3 linked regions of the Homo sapiens genome follow. The protein of the gene in region 1 purifies or fractionates together with the protein of each later gene. This does not show direct contact. Each region holds a gene or a part of one and is shown in the gene's direction. Other genes may lie near its edges. The genes, in order: H2BC6, MIER3 and MBTD1.

What was found.
Region 2: the proteins of H2BC6 (region 1) and MIER3 purify together in Homo sapiens (affinity purification with mass spectrometry, with the first as the bait; one large-scale study listed by BioGRID). This does not show direct contact.
Region 3: the proteins of H2BC6 (region 1) and MBTD1 purify together in Homo sapiens (affinity purification with mass spectrometry, with the first as the bait; one large-scale study listed by BioGRID). This does not show direct contact.

The regions. Positions count from the first base shown.
Region 1 is NC_000006.12:26,182,142-26,184,772, forward strand, and holds H2BC6 (histone H2B type 1-C/E/F/G/I), read left to right. Parts: upstream 1-1,619; 5' UTR 1,620-1,654; coding exon 1,655-2,035; 3' UTR 2,036-2,089; downstream 2,090-2,631. UniProt on the Homo sapiens protein: Core component of nucleosome. Nucleosomes wrap and compact DNA into chromatin, limiting DNA accessibility to the cellular machineries which require DNA as a template.
Region 2 is NC_000005.10:56,928,045-56,931,705, reverse strand, and holds part of MIER3 (mesoderm induction early response protein 3), read left to right. Parts: intron 1-960; coding exon 961-1,042; intron 1,043-2,805; exon of another isoform or gene 2,806-2,844; coding exon 2,845-2,939; exon of another isoform or gene 2,940-3,661.
Region 3 is NC_000017.11:51,176,798-51,180,083, reverse strand, and holds the end of MBTD1 (MBT domain-containing protein 1), read left to right. Parts: 3' UTR 1-2,659; downstream 2,660-3,286. UniProt on the Homo sapiens protein: Chromatin reader component of the NuA4 histone acetyltransferase complex, a multiprotein complex involved in transcriptional activation of select genes principally by acetylation of nucleosomal histones H4 and H2A.

The DNA.
Region 1 (2,631 bases):
AGCTGGGACTACAGGCGCTCACCACCACGCCCAGCTAATTTTTTGTATTTTTCGTAGAGACAGGGTTTCACCGTGTTAGCCAGGATGGTCTCGATCTCCTGACCTTGTGATCCGCCCGCCTCAGCCTCCCAAACTGCTGGGATTACAGGCGTGAGCCACCGCGCCCGGCCCTTTTTTTTTTTTTTTTTAAGAAGGAGTTTTGCTCTGGTTGCCCAGGCTGGAGTACAGCGGTGCAGTCTCAGCTCACTGCAACCCCCACCTCCCGTGTTCAAGCGATTCTCCTGCCTCAGCCTCCCAAGTAGTTGGGATGACAGGCGTGTGCCACCCTACTCAGCTAAGTTTTTGTATTTAGTAGAGACGGGGTTTCACCATGTTGGTCAGGCTGGTCTCGAACTCCTGCCCTCAGGTGATCCACCCGCCTCGGCCTCCCAAAGTGCTGGGATTACAGGCTTGCGCCACTGCGCCCGGCCCAAGATTTTTTGATTAAATAAATACAAATAAAGCACATTAGCTATTATTCTGAACACTGCTACATTAGCTACATTGAAAATTAAAAAAGATGTTAAACAGATTTTAAGGTTTTCTCGTCATCACTGAAGTGAGAAAAACAAATTATTTTGTGAAACAAAGATAAGACACAATAAATTCAGAGTACACTTTTGTTAGATGCTAACCCACAGAGCGGAATACTTTTTGCGCAGCACCTTCATTCCTGGAGACTTAGGGCCCGGGAAATGGGAATGGTGGCAGGAGAGGAGAAGGGCTAGGGGGCTGGGGAGCGTGGGGTGAAGGAGTGGGGGCTTAAAAAGGACAGTCAAATTTAGGAAGAACAGTTTCTTAAACTGAAGTTAGCTAAGCAGCGGGCTTCAGCCAAAGATAATAATACTAACTTGAAAGTAAAGCTGTTTGTTAAATAGGCTTTCATTTTAATTTTTTAAAAAATATTTTCACTAGTTAGACGGAATATTTATTTCTGATCCTCGTTGTAGGGCTAAACTAGGTGTGACTTGCTTTTCCATTAAGGACTGTAGCCATTTTGGCTAAGAAAGTCTTTCCTGTCTTAGCTCTCTTCAAGAGATGCTATTTACTTTTTTGTTGTTGTTTTCTCCGGAGCTTTATTGCCTACCCTTTATTTTCACGATGTGTTTGTGCATTCTGTAAAAAGTGGGAAACACTGTTCTCCGGATTGTGTGGGTGATCGCCGGTCGCCTAGCTTGCCGTTCTTCAGGTATCTCCTGCTGCTCCAGAATCTACATCTGAATGTCAAGGCATAGCTTTTCCAGGAGCTTTTAAACCGACCTTTCAATTCGAAGACGTAACTGCGCCAGGAGCTTTGTCTCCCTGGCATATAAAAGCATAGAAGAGAGCAACTTCTGGTTTTTAAAATAAGTAAACTAATCTGAATTGTTTGCAATGGTAGGAACTTGTTATATAAAATGTTAATTAGGTGGCCCGTGCTCGAAAACTGCTCTCAGGATATGACCAATGGGAGAGTAGACCTAAGCTCCTTCATTTGCATGCAGACTTCACGACAAAATAACGAATCAGAGTTGGAGAAACTAAATCTTCATTTACATAACATTGTCTACAAATTCCGAGGATCAGGAGATGTAGATTTCATTTTCTTTCCTAACTGCAGAACAGCAAAGATAGCATGCCTGAGCCAGCGAAATCCGCTCCCGCCCCGAAGAAGGGCTCCAAGAAGGCCGTGACCAAGGCGCAGAAGAAGGACGGCAAGAAGCGCAAGCGCAGCCGCAAGGAGAGCTACTCCGTATACGTGTACAAGGTGCTGAAACAGGTCCACCCCGACACCGGCATCTCCTCTAAAGCCATGGGGATCATGAATTCCTTTGTCAACGACATCTTCGAGCGCATCGCCGGCGAGGCTTCCCGCCTGGCGCATTACAACAAGCGCTCGACCATCACCTCCAGGGAGATCCAGACGGCCGTGCGCCTGCTGCTTCCCGGGGAGCTGGCCAAGCACGCTGTGTCAGAGGGCACCAAGGCCGTTACCAAGTACACCAGCTCCAAGTAAACTTGTCCCTGCAACTGCCTTAGTAAACCCAAAGGCTCTTTTCAGAGCCACTCACCTTTTCACAATTGGAGCTATATACTGACATGTGAAGATACTAGAAACTCCTGCAGCTGAAATAGGCATGTTTTTAAAACTTAAAATGGCACTCACTGTCTGGGCTGGTGGCTTTATGAAACTCTGGTTTCCGTGTTTTATGAGGTATCACTCGATAGTACCTAAGAGGCAATAGTAATTTCATAGTTTTGCTCTACGAAGAGAAACTTCGTTTCTCAAGAGTCCTTAAAAATACGGGTTTTACCAAAGAAGCCCATATTATGGGGGGCTGGAGCGGGGGTGGGGAAGGAGGAGAGGAGACTGCTGCTTTCAAGTAGTTCTTAATGTTGAATTTGCTTTTTTCCTTTCCTCAATTACTTCAAAAAGGTCTTAATTTGGATTTTTATTTTAGGTTCTAAAGGAAAAAATAAAACCCTCTTCCCTCTACCGCCTCACCTGTCTGGTTTCACCAATTAGACTTGAACAATTCTCAGTGTGCAACCACACTCGCGCTCGCACACAAACACATACACACATTGTTCATTGATCGACAATCCCCATCT
Region 2 (3,661 bases), on another chromosome or scaffold:
TTGGTGCCTGCTTTTGGTGGAAGTAATACATCTAAGGTTTTTACATTAAGAATAATACTGATCCTTGGTTCTACTGTCTTTATTACAGCAAGATAATATCCATCTATTTATAACTATTATGGGTTTTTTCTTTTTAAAATTAGAAATGAATATCAGATACTTTTTAAGCAGCTGTTGATTTGATTTTTTTAAATTGAAATTTAATTATACATATTTAGGTACACAGTGATGTCTTGATACACATAATGTATAGTGATCAGATCAGGGTAATTAGCTCAGAGATGATTTTTTTAAATGTAGGCTATTGATATATTAAAAGTTTTCCTAATATTGAACCATCTTCACTTCCTTAAAACTTACTTGGGAAGGTAGATAGATTATTTAACTTTCAATTGAATTCTGTTATTCCTGTTTATTATGTTCATAATTCCAAGCAGATTTAATAGGAATATATTCTAATTTTGAAAAGTGGCACCTTTCATAGTAGATGGAAATAACGGAGACCGTTATAATCCTAGTCTGAAGTGCCATGCCTATTATTCCAGGCCTGCTGCTGTTCCCTTATATTAAAACTAAAAGAGACAGGGAGGAAATGACATCAAGGGACAGACTGTAACTAATTTTTCCAAACTAGAAAAAGAAACATCTAAAATAGGGGAAACTCTAATCTTAGACCTAGTGTTTTTATTTGTTTGTTTTTAAAAAAAAGTCAAGAATGATACAGGCAGGTGACTTCTGAGAGGTAGCATGAGGATGAACAAACTCACATGGTACCAGAGTCAATCTGCATGATAGTTATATAGACTAAATGCTTGGGCAAATATACCTTCAAATGCCCTGAAATTAGAGAGGATTTCAGTGTTTATCAAGACTCCAATATTTATCAAAACTCTTACACCTGTTTTTTAAAATGCTGTTAGGTATGAACTTTTAATACTTTTTATTGAATATCCATCCCAGGCATTATATGAACTTCTCAAGTGTAACCACAATATAAAGGAAGCAATCGAAAGATACTGCTGCAATGGAAAGGCCTCTCAAGGTAAGAAACACTTGGGTTTAAGAGAGGGACATGACAGGGATGGTCATTTGGGGATCAGAATAAGCAAAGTATCCTAAGGGACAGAGCAATCCTGTAACACTTTTGTAAGATCTGGTTCAGCTCCATAGCAAATAATTTTTCCTTTTCTTGCACTCTATTTTTAGATGTATCAGAGACTGTTCAAACACAAATTAGTCACCCCCCTGCCACCTCTACTTTCTGGAAGAAATAGTTACAGAACAAAGCAGACCCCAGACATGACAATATGTCCAAAGTAATTAAAAAGAATGGTTTTATGATTTCATTGAAAAAAAGATTTTTTCTTTTTTTTTTTCAGCCAGACAGGAAATGAAAAGGAGATTAAAGATTAAAAAAGAAACATGTATAATATATTCCGCTGAATTTATTTCAAGAATTGTATTTTTAGTAATCATGTAATAACATTTTATAGTTCTTATGTTTTGTGTGTGTCAAGGAAAATGGTTAACTTCTATTTCAGTATTTTTTGTCATTATATAAATGGATTGCATGCACCATAGCTTTCATTAAATATGTGTAGAATGAAAATAATACTTAGTAATATTACTAGATGACTTGGGAAGGTATTAAAACTAAAAATAATACATTTAAACTTATGAATTGAGATAGTCTATTAAAATGTCTCCCTTAGAAAAGCTGCTTCTTTGAAAAAAAATTATTTTAGGCTCTCAAAACTCTCAAAATACTGGTTTCTTCCTTAGTTCAAACTATTTTTCACCTTTATTACGGACTGCTATTAATGGCTTTGGGGACCTGGTCTCCCATGTCAAATGAGACACTTCAGAGATACAGATGAGTAATAACTAATCTTAAGTCTAGGCTGTGACTCTTTGAAGACCTTCCAGGTCTCTGCCCCAAGTAGATACGGAATTCACCAACATTAACATCTGCTGGGAAATTGAATGGGATTTATTATTTTGAGAGCATGGACTGTTTCTTATTTCCTTTATATTTCCAGAGTATAGCACTCCACACACCAATTTCAAATAAATATGTGTTGATTATGCTTTACTTATGGTCTCTAATTAAAGAACTTGTGGTTTTGTTTTTTGTCTTTTTTGAGACAGGGTCTCACTCTGTCTCCCAGGCTGGAGGGCAGTGGCATGATCACAGCTTAGTATAGCCTTGATCTCGTGGGCTCAGGTGATCCTCCCACCTCAGCTTCCCAAGTAGCCGGAACTATAGGTGCCCGCCACCACGCCTGGCTAGTTTGTTTTTTTGTAAAGACAGGGTTTTTCCATGTTGCCCATGCTGATTTCAAACTCCTGGGCTCAAGTGATCCTCCTGCGCTGGCCTCCCAAAGTGCTGGGATTACAGGCATGAGCCACCGCACCTGGCTAGAACTTGTGGTTTTGAAGTAAGACCAAAACAGAGCTTCTTTCCCCCAATAAAGGAGGTAGAGTTTTTTTTTCTAATTGAAAAATACGCTCATTGTTTAAAAAAATTTTTTTTAATCAGAAAAACAGGCATGTTATAGAAAACTTAAATTCTCATCCCATAATGTAGTGGAAAAAAAGCAGTGTTTATATTTTTGTATTCTAGACTTGAACTGTAGTATGCATGCTTTTGGTAATTCTAACTGAAATCTCCTGCATACAGAGAGAGAGAGAGAGAGAGAGTGTGTGTGTGTGTGAGAGAGAGAGTGTGTGTGTGTGAGAGAGAGAGAGAGTTTGTGACCTTTTACAGGGAAAACATACTGAAAATCAGTGATTCACATAAGAAAATTTGGGGGCCCATAAATTTTATTTTAAAATTTTTCTTAGAAGGAATGACTGCATGGACGGAAGAAGAATGCCGAAGCTTTGAACATGCACTCATGCTTTTTGGAAAAGATTTTCATCTTATACAGAAGAATAAGGTAAATTAGGCAGATTAGTACAGATAAATTACTAGTTACAGTGAATGTAAGCAACTAATTTATAAGTCACTTAAGTAGGAAAAAAGAACAACTTACTAATGTTCCCTTATAGCATTTCAGATATCATTCTAACATGACTAATTTGCTCAGAGATGCCACAGCCTGCTTATGGAATGGCTGATAGTATATTCACATATCTTTTCACATAAACAGTTGACACAGAAAGTGGACTCACTGTATTTTTTAGGAAGTCTCACTCTCATTTCTCCTTGACTTTCCTTTCTTATCAAGCCATTCAGAGGTTTGTGGCCTCAAAATAATTTCTCTTCAGCAGTGAGAGTAGCTGTTGCTGAAGGAAGAAACATTGTTACTAAAACAACTAGAAACATATTCTAACACCACCAAATGCTGGTAAGGATGGGAAGCAACAGGAACTCTTATTCATTGCCTGTAGGAATGCAAAGTGGTATGGCCACGTTGGAAGATAGCTTGGAAGTTTCTTATAATACCAACCATACTCTTACCGTATAATTAAATAATCCTGTTCCTTGGCATTTACCCAAATGCGTTGAAAACTTATGTCCACACAAAAGTGTTTATAGCAGCTTTCATCATAATTGCTAAAACTTGGAAGGAACCTGTATGTCCTTTGAGGTGAAAGGATAAACAAAGTGTGGCACCTCCAGAACTGGACTATTATTCAGCACTAAAAAAATTGAGCT
Region 3 (3,286 bases), on another chromosome or scaffold:
ATGGAGGGGTCATCACCACAAAGGTCATGGAAGGGTCATTATTTCTCTTGTTGGCATTTTATTGCAGCCCATTTTAAATGTTTGTACAGAAATATTTTTCATTCTGTGAAAATTTATTTGGAGTTCTGTATGAAACTGGAAGAACTCTGGATACTTTTATATGTTCTCTTTTAATTAAAAAAATGATTAGAATTATCCTAACACTAAAGTGTTAAACTGGAATGGTTGACAAGATATTCAGGATCTCAGTCTACACATTGAGGGGTTGGGGAAAATGTAATGTTGTCCTTAGTTTATTTTCCTTTCTAAAAAAAATACCCCACGAAAGGGATTCTGATCAGTTCTCTGCCATTTCCCTCTATCTGTGAAATAACAGCTTCGTATAACCACAACCAAAAACAGATGTTCTGTATTAGGAGAATCGAATTGAAAGTTATTCAAAGCCAAAATAAGTTTAGATTTCAAAATCATTCCAGCTCTGCTTTTATCTATCCTGGATTTGGTAGAAAACTAATTTGAAAGAGAATTTAATTTTCTTAAAATTCCATATATATATATATATATATATATATATATATATATATATATATATATATATAAAATTGTCTTTAATTGTATTCAGGATTTATTTTAATAATAACCGATTTGGACCATTTTGAACATTCCCTGTTTTAAAATTCATATGACTTCCTTTTAAAAAAAAAAAAAGGATACAAGGGTAAACTGGTGAAAGGTTTGCTCTCTGCATTTTCTAACTTTCTACTGAGTTGTGACTGAATGAGAGCGCTCTAGCGTTTACCAGTGAGGTTCATAAACTAAACTCTCAGGAATTAATTGCATCTGTTCTAGAAGTGCTTCTGGGTCTTAGCCTGGCCTCTTCAGAGTGGTAATATTGACCATCTCCTCTGGAATATAGGTAGGGCTAATTAGAAATTAATCAAAATGATTAACCTCTACAGTCCTTCAGCCTATGGAATGCTTTAAAAAATGTTAATGGAAAGCCCCAGGAGACCATTTTAGGTAAGACTTTTGTTTGAATTTTAAAATGCATAGAACGTTAAAAAAAACCAGCAATTTATTTTCTAAAATATTGCTCTACTTTTGGGAATAATAGCATTGGTAATACGCACAGGTTTACCTCATTCTATGCAAGAGGGGTTAATAACATAAGGTTTTATAATAGCTACTGGAAGTAAAATTTGTTACTTTATAGTGTAAGAATGTATGGAATCGCATGTCACCATTTCTTAATACTGACTCTTTAGGGGCATAAATGCAGATCACATCAACGCAAGTTGATTCTCATGTGTCAAATATATGTGAATTCAGCTGTTAAATTACTGGATATTTATCTTAACATTGCTGAGAGGGACCTACTGTAAATGTGACATCCTCACACTTCCCATATCTTTAACTTTGAAAAATCTTCTTGTAAACTTAAAGCCTAGAAGTATTCCAAAGCAAGGGTTAGAGCAGTCTTTATTCTCAGGCTCACTGAATTAAACCCAGGACTAATTCCACAGCACAGGCACAAGAAGCCTGTTGTGTAGTGTACTCTGCCAGTACCTTGGATTTAGGAGCTCCATGGGGAACTGACTAAACCAGGAGAGAGAGGATTTGGAGCTAGTCAGTCCTGGTAATCTATGAAATGCTCATTTATACCCAGGTTTCATAAGCTTCCAATTCTATAGCAAACCCAGGCTCTGAGTGTTTTAGAATTTCCTAATTCATGAAGTGTTTCTTGTCTTGATCCCGTGACCAACAGTTGAAGGTTGGTAAGGACTTTTCTACAGTCTGAACACAACCTAAAGCCCTCTTTCATTGTTCACACACTAACTCCTACTGCCGACGAACCGAAAAATAATTAATGCAGAGGAGATTTATGTCTTAGCCATAACTCCAGTTGTACAACTCAATCGCCCCATTCTCTTTTACGGTTCAAAATGTACTGCTGACCTTGGGTTTGTTTTTGTTTTGTTTTGTTTTTCCTGTTAGGATTTATTTGGGGACTTTTGGTAGTTTAAACTCTTTAACCTTTTCCTTGCCGTGTATGAGGAAAGCTAAAGCTGTTATCAACTTCTTATTCTACGATACTAACACGGGTTTTCAGTGTTTGTTTGTTTTTATTATTATTATTAATTTTGCGTGATGTGAATACCCTCTCCCATCAATATTTGTATTATGGTGCTATATATTGGTAATGATCCTTTAATATTGGGAAGGGATTTTAAAAATACTGTGATTAAACTGGGTTTCTTCCTTTGATTTTCATATTTTAAATAAAGCCACAGTCATTTATACAAAAGAAAAGCATCTGTCCCTGGGCAAATCTTTTGAGGACAGAGGTCAAAGTAAACTGCATAAGGTTTTTACATCATTTCTGTATGTATTTGATATATAGATCAATATCTGTACAAATTTAATCTTTTATTTTCTTGGTAACTCGTGATCATTGAGAAAGTGTTTGAAACTTTCTCATGAAGTGTATATATAATGGCGTGAAAAATTCCTTTGGAAAAATTTATGTTCCTTTCATTTTTACCAAATTGCAAATTTTCAGCATGGATGTGAAAAGCATTAAAATTATAACTTTGTGTACAAGATGAAAATAATTCACTAAATTTGCCCTTTTTTACACAAAATAAAATGTTAAAGTTAAGCTGGATTTGAGCAGTTCTTTAATATGCTTTGGTTTGGGGGGTTGCTTTTCTATTGCGTGCCCTCTATAAGCAGTCAGAGACCCCTATGAAAGTTGGATCAGCCCCTTCCTCTTACAAGGGGTAGCAGGCACATGAGTGCTGTAAGGAAGAATTTTCCACTAGCTGCCAAGGGAGCCAAGAGTAGTATGGTTAGACATATGGATGAGGTTGCATTGGAGGTGGGATTTCATGGGCAGGGAGGGAAAGGGCAAAAACCACAGCAGGAGCCAAGGTGAATAGGGACCTTTATGGGGAAATTAAATCATCTTAGCTAGAACATCGTGTTTTGGGGTTGGCATGCTTAGTAGGAGACTTTTTTTTTTTTTTTTTTTTTTGAGATGGAGTCTTGCTCTGTCACCCAGGCTGGAGTGCAGTGGCGCTATATCGGCTCACTGCAACCTCCACCTCCCATGTTCACACCATTCTCCTGCCTCAGCCTCCTGAGTAGCTGGGACTACAGGCGCCTGCCACCACGACCGGCTAATTTTTTGTATTTTTAGTCGAGACGGGGTTTCACCGTGTTAGCCAGGATGGTCTTGATCTCCTGACCGCGTGAGCCACCATGCCTGGCTAGTAGGAGACTTTTT